Regions from separate parts of the Homo sapiens genome. Here region 2 is linked to region 1. Evidence: fine-mapped expression QTL. Tissue or cell type: cerebral cortex. Region 1 holds a variant in brackets; the other region holds the start of a gene. All regions are shown on one strand. Distances are from middle to middle.

Evidence for each region. PIP is the estimated chance that this variant, and not a neighbour inherited with it, causes the effect.
Region 2: AIG1 starts here. The variant in region 1 is the best candidate, but not a certain one, in a credible set for the expression of AIG1 in cerebral cortex (GTEx, PIP 0.61).

The regions. Positions count from the first base shown.
Region 1 is chr6:143,338,237-143,343,617 of GRCh38, reverse strand. AIG1 (androgen induced 1) reads right to left here. Exons shown (of 6, transcript NM_016108.4): 6 at 2,560-3,979. The coding sequence ends at 3,942. It also overlaps the pseudogene PARLP2. Among named protein-coding and RNA genes, the nearest start is that of ADAT2, 110 kb to the left of the region's middle. The variant T/C (reference allele first, on the strand shown) is at 2,369.
Region 2 is chr6:143,057,991-143,063,371 of GRCh38, reverse strand. AIG1 (androgen induced 1) reads right to left here and starts at 2,483. Exons shown (of 6, transcript NM_016108.4): 1 at 2,306-2,483. The coding sequence starts at 2,446. RefSeq lists enhancers at 1,944-1,993, 2,594-2,723, 2,549-3,487 and silencers at 2,184-2,253, 2,504-2,593.

The DNA of each region.
Region 1 (5,381 bases):
ATTTTTATTTTTATTTTTTTATTTTTTACGAACTAGATGTAAACCTTTACGTCACAACTATGTCATTTTCACTTTCTGAAAAGACACGGACCCGGGGACACAGCTGAAAACAGTGGGAGGCCAGATGCTGGCGTCTTCCAGGCGGGAACGTAGCCATGATCACTCTAGGGCCGATGTCTCCTGGGGCTCTCCGGCAGGACAAGACAGGTGCACCGGTACTGTGCAATCCCAGTTTTACTTAGAGCCACCTCTTGTTTGGGGGGGCATTAGTCCTCATTTCATGCCAGATTTTCACTAGAGGCTCCCTGTTCTTCCAAATCAGTTCATGAGGGTAAGTAACATACCATATTCCAAAGAGAGCTCCCCCAAGATGTGCTGCATAATCAAAAAATTTCCGTCCCAGGATCATTCCTGCCATATCCGTGGCGTTAATGGATTGTAGGGCATTTCCTGCTGTGAATGTGAACATTGGAAGTAAATAATGGCAAGCCTCCCTTCTGGGATCTTAGTGCGGACAGCTGCGAGGATCATCATGATGGCGCGAGATGCACCAAGTGATGGTCCATATCTTCGTGTGGCAACTTTACACACATAACTGACAAAATTGGAAATAACACCTGCAGATAGGTACACTGCCATGAACTGCTCTTGACCCAGAATGTTCACTATACTGAAGGAGAAGCTCCACAAAACATACATATTTGCTGCCATGTGAAATAAGGAGAAATGATTGAATGTTGACAGCAACATTGGAGAACAACGGACTTTTGAGGCTGGATTAGATTTGAAATATCAGATCACTGTCCACTGCAGAGAAGGTACTCTCCACAAACAGAATACAAGGACGTTTGCAGCTATGATACCTGAGTCCGCTGGCCATCACTTAGGTTATTCCACCGCTTGTTAATCTCCTTTCTGAAGTCTCCTTCTTTTTGTGGTCTTATGCTATCCAACCAATCAGCTTTTATGCCATCAAAATAACTCTGGACCCCTGGATTTCAGTGATTCGTATTGCCAAATAGCAGCTGATCCAAATGCACAGCCTGTAAACCCAACAGTAAAAAAATAAAGGTTTTATGAGAGTCCTTATAGGATAGGGAGAAAGATAAAAGACTGTTTCTTCCACCAGAGGAATCAAAGCACTTCTCTTGTATGCTTCACCACTTGTTGCCGTGTCTGATCTTCGAGGTTCAACCTTACTGGGTTCTTTTCTGAACCACATTTTTTTCTGAATAAAGAAGTTAAACCTGCGTCTAAGCAGCTGCGGCGGGGCTAGAACCGCAGTGAGCTCCTCGCAGCTGCTGCTGCGCACCAGGGGAGCCCACGCTGAGCCGCAGCCCCAGCCTCTCTGCGCCCAGCCTCGCCACCCCATTTTCCCACTACAAGAAAATTTTAGGACGGGCGCAATGGCTCACGCCTGTAATCCCAGTACTTTGAGAGGCCAAGGCGGGTGATCACCTAAGGTCGGGAGTTTGAGACCAGCCTGACCAACATGGAGAAACCCGTCTCTACGAAAAGTACAAAATTAGCAGGGCTTGGTGGTGCATGCCTGCAATCCCAGCTACTTGGGAGGTTGAGGCAGGAGAATCGTTTGAACCAGGGAGGCGGAGATTGCAGGGAGCTGAGATGGTGCCATTGCACTCCAGCCTGGGAAACAAGAGCAAAACTCCGTTTCAAAAACAAAAAAAAATTTTTTAGTACCTTCATTCGATATCCCAGGGATTATATTGTTTTACTCCAGCAAAAAGACTTCTGGAAACACTGCTATCAGTGGAGCCACCGCCTAAGTAAGCTTACAATAATTTATCATCCTCCAAAATTCATCCATCGTTTGTACACAGTTCGTATTAATTTGCTGTTACTGACATAGCAAAATGTCAGTCCACTGACTGGTGGCTTAAACAATATTAATTTATTTTCTCAAAGTTCTGGTGGCTAGAAGTCCAAGATCAAGGTGTCAGCAGGTTTGGTTCCTCTGAGTCCTCTCTCCTTGGCTTGCAGTTGGCAACCTTCTTCCCATGCCCTCACATGGTCTTTCCTCTGTGTATGTACATTCCTGGTGTCCCTTTGTGTGTCCTAATTCCCCCTTTTTACAAAGATACTACTCAGATTGGATTAGGGCCCATTTTAATGGCCTCATTTTAACTTAATCCCCTCTTTAAAGGCCCTGTCTCCAAAAACAGTCATATTCTAAGGCACTAGGGGTTACGGGTTCAACATATAAATTTTAGGGGGACACAGTGCCACAATGTAACCCATAATAGAGGTCAGACAGGTAAGATACATGTAGTTGTGATGGAAACCAACTCTGGATCCTTCAAGTCTTTGATCCTGTACTAACTGCAGCAGTCATTCCAAGGATGTGGTA[T/C]TGCTGTGCTTTTCTGTTTTGGTGGATTTCTGCTTGACTTTCCTACTTAAAAGTCCCAGCTCCATGAGTTAGGAAACTAATATGGTAATGCTGCTAGATGCATTCTATATTTCTATCAATTTTGCTTTCAGAAATGGGGGGCATATAGAGTGAATGTGTGTGGGAGAAAGAGAGAGACAGAGAGACGGAAGGAAGAGAGATTTTTAGCATTTAATTACATTTAAATGTAACTAATTTTAAATTAACTTTTTGAGTTTAAATTTTTTTCAAATTAAAAAGTTTAATGCTTTTCATTTTTTAATTTTAAAATGTAATTATAATTTTGGAGTGAATGGTTTTATATCATTTGTTGATCTCTCTCAACATTGGGCAATCAATACTTATATTTGTGTTAAGTAACATTTTATAATTTATATAACATATTTTTCATCTTAAAAATAATTACGGTCAAAGATTTTGTAAAATAGTTTTTTTAAAAACAATTTTGTGGCTGGGCGCGGTGGTTCATGTCTGTAATCCCAGCACTTTGGGAGGCCGAGGCGTGTGGATCACAAGGTCAGGAGATCGAGACCATCCTGGCTAACAAGGTGAAACCCCGTCTCTACTAAAAATACAAAAAATAAGCCGGGCGTGTGGCAGGCGCCTGTAGTCCCAGCTACTCGGGAGGCTGAGAAGGCAGGAGAATGGCATGAACCCGGGAAGCGGAGCTTGCCGTGAGCTGAGATCACGCCACTGTACTCCAGCCTGGGCGACAGAGTGAGACTCCATCTGGAAAAAAAGAAAAAAAAAATTTGTTTTGGAGTTATCAAAAAGATTCACATTTTTTAAAATCCAAAAATTATAGGAAAGAACCAGGTTCAGTAAACCCATTTTCAACAGGTAATAAAAATGAAAAGGAGATACTAATGCTGTTAGGATTTTGAGATGCACAATGCAGACGTCAGGTTCAGGGTGGCTTTGTCTTTATTAGTCAGCATTTGCATCTAGGAAAAGTTTCACATGATTAAATCAAGAGATGCAATACACTCAGGCTTTTCATGAAATTGACATCATTATTACAAATGGTGCTCATTTGAGGCAACTGTGACATTATGCAATGAGAAACATCTGTCCCCTTCCCTCTCAGGTCCCCATGGTGGCCTAGGTTCATGATTACAGCCACCTTTAGGATTAAATACACAAAAGCCTTACTCTATATATGCCCCTTTGACTTTAACATATTTCTCAAAAAGAAGTGCAATAAACTTTTATTCTTTCTTGATTAGATGGAGTTACAATTGCCAAAATAAAAATCCAAGGTCCAATTCTGGTTTTAAAACTAGAAAAGGAAAAAATGTTATTATCAGTAATGACTTTGGGAAGAATTCTTTAACACACAGTGAGGGTGAGTTCTTTTGGAAACAACTGTATTCTATGTTTATACATATTTATATATAAAAGGTGTCCTCATTGGGGGAGGGGGGTGCTGATGCCACCAAGTTCCTTTGAAGCCTTTTCTCCCCCACTGCCAATGCCCGAGGGGAAGGAGTCTTCAATGGCGGCTCAATCTAGCTCTTGCGTTTAGACTTGGATCTCATTCCAATTTAGGCTTTTCTTTCTCTTCTTCCATACCTAGAAATACAGGCAAAGTGTTTTATTTGAGCATCAGATTAAACCACAAGCAGTTTGTTTAATCTGGCTTGCTAACACTACTCACACATCCACTCATCTGCCCTCACTTCTCCCATTCACCCTCCTGACACACCCCCTATTCCCTCCTAGCTAAGAAGGAAAGCCATGCACAACTTTCTCCAGAAACATCCTCAGTGACCTCTCTTCCCCACCCTTTCCACAGAATCAGGACACAGCATCTCTGGGACACACCCAGCTCCTATGGCCTCTGGGAGACAAGGCTTCAAGTTGATTCATGACTTGCTGAGTTTGCATGGAAATCCCAGCTAGACTGCTTTTTAAACCAGCTTCTGGCAACATGAGGTGTGCAACTCATGAGTTTCAAACAGACTTCATTTATTTTTACTTTAGTCCTGTCTCTTCCTAAGGCAAGGACTTTGGATTTTAAAAAGCCATGCTTTTTTTTTTCTTGTTTTCTTTTTAAAGTTCATAGAGAGTTTATTAGCCATAAGAGCTGTTTATTTCCATACTCATGAATCTTAAACTGCAATTCTCTCTCTATTCAACCCAATCCTGGTAGAATCATGTTTTTCTTCCTGAAGGACTTGTATGTACTGGACCAGTAAGAACCTTTGCCTGTTGTCTGTAGAGAATAGTCGATGATGTTTCATGTTCCTGAAGATGAAAATGTTCATCATTTTTAGGAATTATAGTTAAATCTGGCAAGTGCTTCTTGCTTTTTTCTTTTTCTTGTACCTAAACATTTTTTGAATCATACCAAATTCTCAGTTTCTTTGTTTCAATAGCAAAAATGAAACAAAATAACTTAAAATACCACTTTGCAGGTTTTGTTAGTATTCTTTCATAAATTGCAAGCTTTCTGAGGGTAGGGCCCTTCCCTATTTTGTTCCCCAGCACCTAACATAGTGTGTGTGTCTCATTGCAGGAGCTCAATTAATCTTTGCTGAATAAAATTAATAAGCAATGAACACAGAGAAGACCTCAGAAGCCTGGACTAGTGGAAAGCAGAACAAAATATGGGACTCCACAATATGAAAATTATAAAATTTAACCCCAGAGGGTCATAATGTTAGGGCTTACAATAGGAAGGACTCCCCCACCACATAACCCCAGCTCCTGGTATATGTTTTGTGCTGTCAGAGTAGTGGTGGTGGAATGTGGGTAACGTGCTCTGAATGAATGTCCCCAGATGATCTTTTATGTTTGGTTTTCATGGCTAAGGAACTGGCAGAGATCTGGAGCACTTTTTCCAAAGTCCTTCTCAGAAATCCTATGAAGGAAAACTTCAAATTGAGGAGTAAGGACATCTGACGGGAGGAGGAACAGGTTTGAAGGCAAGAAGGTACAACACGCCTTCGTTGTTGGGTAACCACGGAAAGAA
Region 2 (5,381 bases), 280 kb after region 1:
GAGCCACAGAGTAAAAAATTACAACGCTGGCTAAAGGTCCTATACAATCTGAAGCTAAATATGAAGCAAAGTAAATGTTTCACATTTGAATCTACTGTCTGACTTCTGGGATAGAAAAAGTCCTGTATGGTGATTAGTATTTAAAACAGGCAAGTCCAATCATTGAATGCTAAAAGATAAATTATATGACAGCATATCAAGCTGACTCTACTATGGTTTCATGTCACACAAAGGTTATGAGAGGTATATCATTTCTTCTGAGCCTTGTTTTTCAATGCACAGTAAGCAATGCTAATTATGAAAAGCAGGCATCTCTTGGGTTAACCAACACCCTCAATTTCTACCTCTGTTCACCTGCTGACCCCTGCCTTGCTCCCACAACACAGCATCTACTGCAAGAGTGATGCTGAGGGCTGTTTCTAGAACCTATGGCTCCCACAGCATCTCTGTATTCTTGCCCAGCACTGCTCTTTAGCAACATTCAAATAGGCCAGCTCTAAGTAAGATCTGACTTAGGAATGGGATAAGGCAGTGTCCCAAAAGGAGTTTTGCTCACATAGCCCCTCAAAGAATTCTGAAAATCTATGCACATATTTTTAAATAACATCTCAACATCCTTAACATAGTTAAGTGTAAACACTTGAAAAAGGGACATCTTTCTGGCGCTCTATGGGTGGTATGCTTGCTTCATATACATATGCATCAGAACCTCAGGGTTGCAGATTTAGCTCATTCAGTATACAGAAAATGTCTGCTACACAACATAATTGGCAAAGCCAATCCTCATTGACAAGCCAATCAACCCAATAAGACTTTCTGTCAAGGCAACTCCGACATTGTTGTTCAATCAAATATAAAGATAGCCCTGGTGACAACCATCTATCTTCTGGAAGCTAAAAGGAACAGACAGAAAAGCACACCTCAGAGTCTTGTCACGGGCTCCTCACTTGGATGAATGGGGAGAATGAAAGGAGAACTGGCAGGCATCACGCATGTTCAGAGGGAAATTAGTTTCAAGCAGAGTTGGAAGATGAGGATCTGAAAATTAAAACCCTTGCAACATTCTATACCCTGTGAAGTCTTGTGGGCCTAAGGGTATGTGCACAGTTTGGAGACTGCTGGGCAACAGAATTGAAATTCCACTCTGAAAGTATCTAATATAATGCAAATATAAGGTGTTATTTTTAAACCAAAAGCCTCTCTGCATTTCTTTGAGGCATCCTAAGCCTTTGGAAATTTTTAAAACAGGTATCATGTTCTCTTCATCAGAATGGAGGGTCAACAAGAGATTATAATCTTGCTGGTGTAGCCAACCAACTGTATAGTCTTGGATAAACAGTTCAGGGAGTCCCAGGAATTGGTTCTACAATTTCTCTGAGTGCTTTAGAACTTCATTGCTTTTGTTTTAAGCCTCTTCCTAATAATCTTTTAGCGTGTGTCTTAGTCACCTTTACCCTGAAATTCCTAGGTCCATCCATGAGTTCATTATTGGGCCTTATGCCCATGTTCTGTTCTCCAGGGAGGTTGAAGAGGGCCTTTTAGTGCCAGAAATAGAAAAACTTTCAAAATGATATACTAATAATAACCTGCACCTGTCAAGATTATCATATTGTGCCAACAGAGGAGCTGCTTATGCAAACTACTGTAAATTTGTACATGGGAAGACAGAGAAGTGTGTACAGTCACCTTGGAAATGCACTTTGAACATCTCTGTCTCCTAATATGTACGGGGTAAAGGTTGAAAGTAAATTATTGACAATGGGGGAAAAAAACAGATGCAAAGAAGACAACTTTATTAGGTGCTTTCTCTCCCTTATGAGAAGGATTTGGTTCTTTCAGGTGAAGTTCCAAATCACTAGACAATACCCAGTTTCCTTCAGTTGCAACAAGTTCATCCCACGGTGGGTGCTCTGAAAAGCACCTTGAGGGCGAATGGGTCTCAGGCCATTCAGGATCAGGTCCGATGCTTTTGTTGAAGATTCTTCCCGTGTCACCTCTTAGAAGCAGTTCGGTGTCCCCCTCCAAAGAGCCCACCACCTGGCTGCGCCCCACCTCCATTTGTCCCCCAGTTGCCAGGTAAGGGTACCCAGCTACCAGGTAACGGTGAGTGGTTCAGAAGGTGCCGCTGCGGGGGCAGCCAGGCCTTCACACGCAATCACTGGGGAAGAGGCGAGGACACGGGTGGATGCTGGAGGCGCGCACGTGCGCAGGTGCTCGCGCATCCACACACACACACACACACACACACACACACGCACACACAGGCACGGGGTGCGGGGCGAGCAGGGGGAGGGGACGGCCTTACCAGATCAATGAACGTCAGGAATTTCCAGCTCCCTCCGTAGGTCTGGTGTGAGGGCATTTCGATGGCCTTGTAGTTACACAGGATAGAGCAGTAAGACAGCAGGATTGCCATCCGCAGCACCTGGCAGGGGACAAGCGCCATGTTCGCCAGAGGCCTGGACCGGCTGGGCGGCAAGGAGGGCGGGCGTGAGGGAGGCGCCGGGCGCGCGGGGGCGGGCGCCGTGGGAACCCGGGCGCGGGCGCGGGCGCGGGGCGGGGCGGGGCGGGGGCGGGGGCGGGGGCGGGGCGCGCGCCCCCGGGGACTGGCGCGGCCGCGAGCGCCCGGGTGACCTGTACTGGCCGGGCGCGGTTTGCGGACGCTCTCCACTGCCGGCCGCGGCCTGGCAGGCGGCGTGTCGTCATCTCTTTCGTCACCTTCGTCATTCTGCTCCTGCGTTCGCAGGGTCCCGGGACACCCGGCCAGGAGGCGCCCCCTAGGCATCCCAGGTGTGGATGCGACCTCTGAGTGCTACGAGGGCTCGGGAAGTGCGCGCTGATCTCCAGGGGGAAGCGGGCCCTGTGGCTAGTGGGCGCCGGGCCGGGCGAGGGGGCGGGGAACCTAGACTGAAGGAGTGGACCCCAGTGTCCACAAATGTTCCCGCCCCGGAATCGCGGTGACGCTTCCTGGGGTAGTTGCAGTTGGCCGAGAGCTGGTGCCCCGTGCGGAGGGATCCGGTGGGGGTGTGAACGTGGGGTGTAAACCCGAGCACAGGCAGCCGCGAGTGACTTTCAGTATTTTGGGGCAATAAGGTTTTCAGTGTTGACAAACGACTGTCAATCACTAGGAAACTCTCTCAATTCTGCTTTCAATGGGTAGGCTACGCAGCACTTTTCCATGACAGATTGAATAATGTCATATCAGTATATAACATCAGCTAGAATATGAACTTTGGACAAGAGGTTTATAGATAAAAAGCTATAAAGAAAGGATTTTCAAATAACTTTCTGCCACAAGATTGCATTCAGCTTTAAAAAATTCCAATTTTGGATGTAAAACCCCTGCGTGTAATTTAATACTAATCATCTGGTTGTTAAACTGGTTTTGCCCTTACTTTTTTCTTACACTACACTACCAGGGCTTAATGGAAGGAAAATAAATATAAACTGGAGTCCCTCCTGCCTTCCAGTAAATGTTGTCACACTGAAGTTGCATCAGTCTGTGGGCAACATTTTCATTTCAGCCAACCAGTTGCAGGTTCGGATTATGAAAAGGCAACATAGGTATTTCCTGTGGATCCATTTAAAACAGGTGTCCTCTTCAAATAGTCTCTGAGTCAGAGGATGTGGAGGGAGGGCTGGTGGGGAGAAGCATAGTGCTAGAGGTAAAGAGAAAGTAGCAAGCAAGCCATGGATGTTTTCCTGAATGTTTCCAATCAAGCTCTAAACTAAAATGAAGAGACCCACTAGATTTTTTTAATTGGCATTATAATTATGCTAATAGAACTGATGTCAGAAGAAGATTCTACTAGCATTAAAACGATGTATTATTGATGATTTTTGGTTAAATCTTAATGTAAAAGTTGGCTTTATTTTTTTAATTGTGCATCCTTGGTACATGGTTATAAACTGCCAAAAAAATAAAAATAAAAAAGAGTAGATCTATTGAAGATCTACCTACCTTAATAATGTGTCTGGAATTGGTTCCTGCCGGTAGATTAGTGGTCTCAGTGACTTCAAGAATGAAGCGGCAGACCTTGGTGGTAAGTGTTACAGCTCTTAAAGATGGCACAGACCCAGAGTGAGCGATAGCAAGGTTTATTGTGAAGAGTGAAAGGACAAAGCTTCCACAGCATGAAAGGGGACTGGAGCGGGTTGCTGCTGCTGGCTGGGGTGGCCAGCTTTTATTCCCTTATTGTCCTCTCCAGTGTTCTGTTTCTGTCCTATGAGAGTGCCCTTTTTTCAGTCCTCCCTGCGATTGGCTACTTTTAAAATCTTGCTGATTGGTGCGTTTTACAGAGTGCTGATTAGTGTGTTTTACAGAGTGCTGATTGGTGCTTTTTACAGAGCGCTGATTGGTGCATTTTACACTCCTCTTGTAAGACAGGCAAGTTCCCCAAGTCCCCACTTGTCTCAGGAGGTCCAGCTGGCCTCACCTCTCAATAGAGCCTTAATAAAGTTTTATGAGTTAATGTGATATTTGCAAAGTTTGATATACCCTTCCTACTTTACATGTTAGACAATTATTAAGACTCCCCAACCCCATTGTTACAAAATGAAATAATATTTTCATAAAGCCATTTTTAATGGTCAGGTTTTTTGTTTTGTTTTTCTTTTTGTTTTTTTGTGAGACAGAGTCTAGCTCTGTCACCCAGGCGGAAGTGCAGTGGCATGATCTCAGCTCACTGCAACCTCTGCCTCCTGGGTTCAACTATTCTCCTGCCTCAGCCTCCCAAGTAGCTGGGACTACAGGCGCATGCCACCACACCTGGCTAATTTTTTTTGTATCTTTAGTAGAGATGGGGTTTCACCATGTTGGCCAGGTTGGTCTTGAACTCCTGACTTCAAATGATCCACCTGCCTCGGCCTCCCAAAGTGCTGGGATTACAGGTGTGAGTCACTGCGCCCGACCAGTTTCTTTTAAATAAATAACTATAACTCTTAATTAAGTATTTAGAACCTATTCTGCTGGGTTTGCTTTTGTTTTTTCATGATTTGCCAACCATGATCAGATAGTTTTGTGCTTTAAAAAAATGAAGCGTTTGTATAAAACTTGACTCAAATACTATTTTATGAGAATGTCAGTTCACAATTTTTGGAACTTCTTGATAACTATTAACATGTCCAGGCTTGCTTTCTGTGCTTTTCAGACCATATCTAACAATCTTAGTCATGTTTTACAGATAACTTTTGTGGAAAATATTAATCTACACACATTGTGTTTTTACAGCGTAAACAATTGCTTTTAAAACTTCATTAGGTAAGTTATTACTTTTTATGAACTATAATACATTATTCACTTCTAAGTATTCTTATGATGATTCCATATTTGATTTAGATAATACTGTTTTCTATGTATAGAAGAAATATTTGCATGTCTT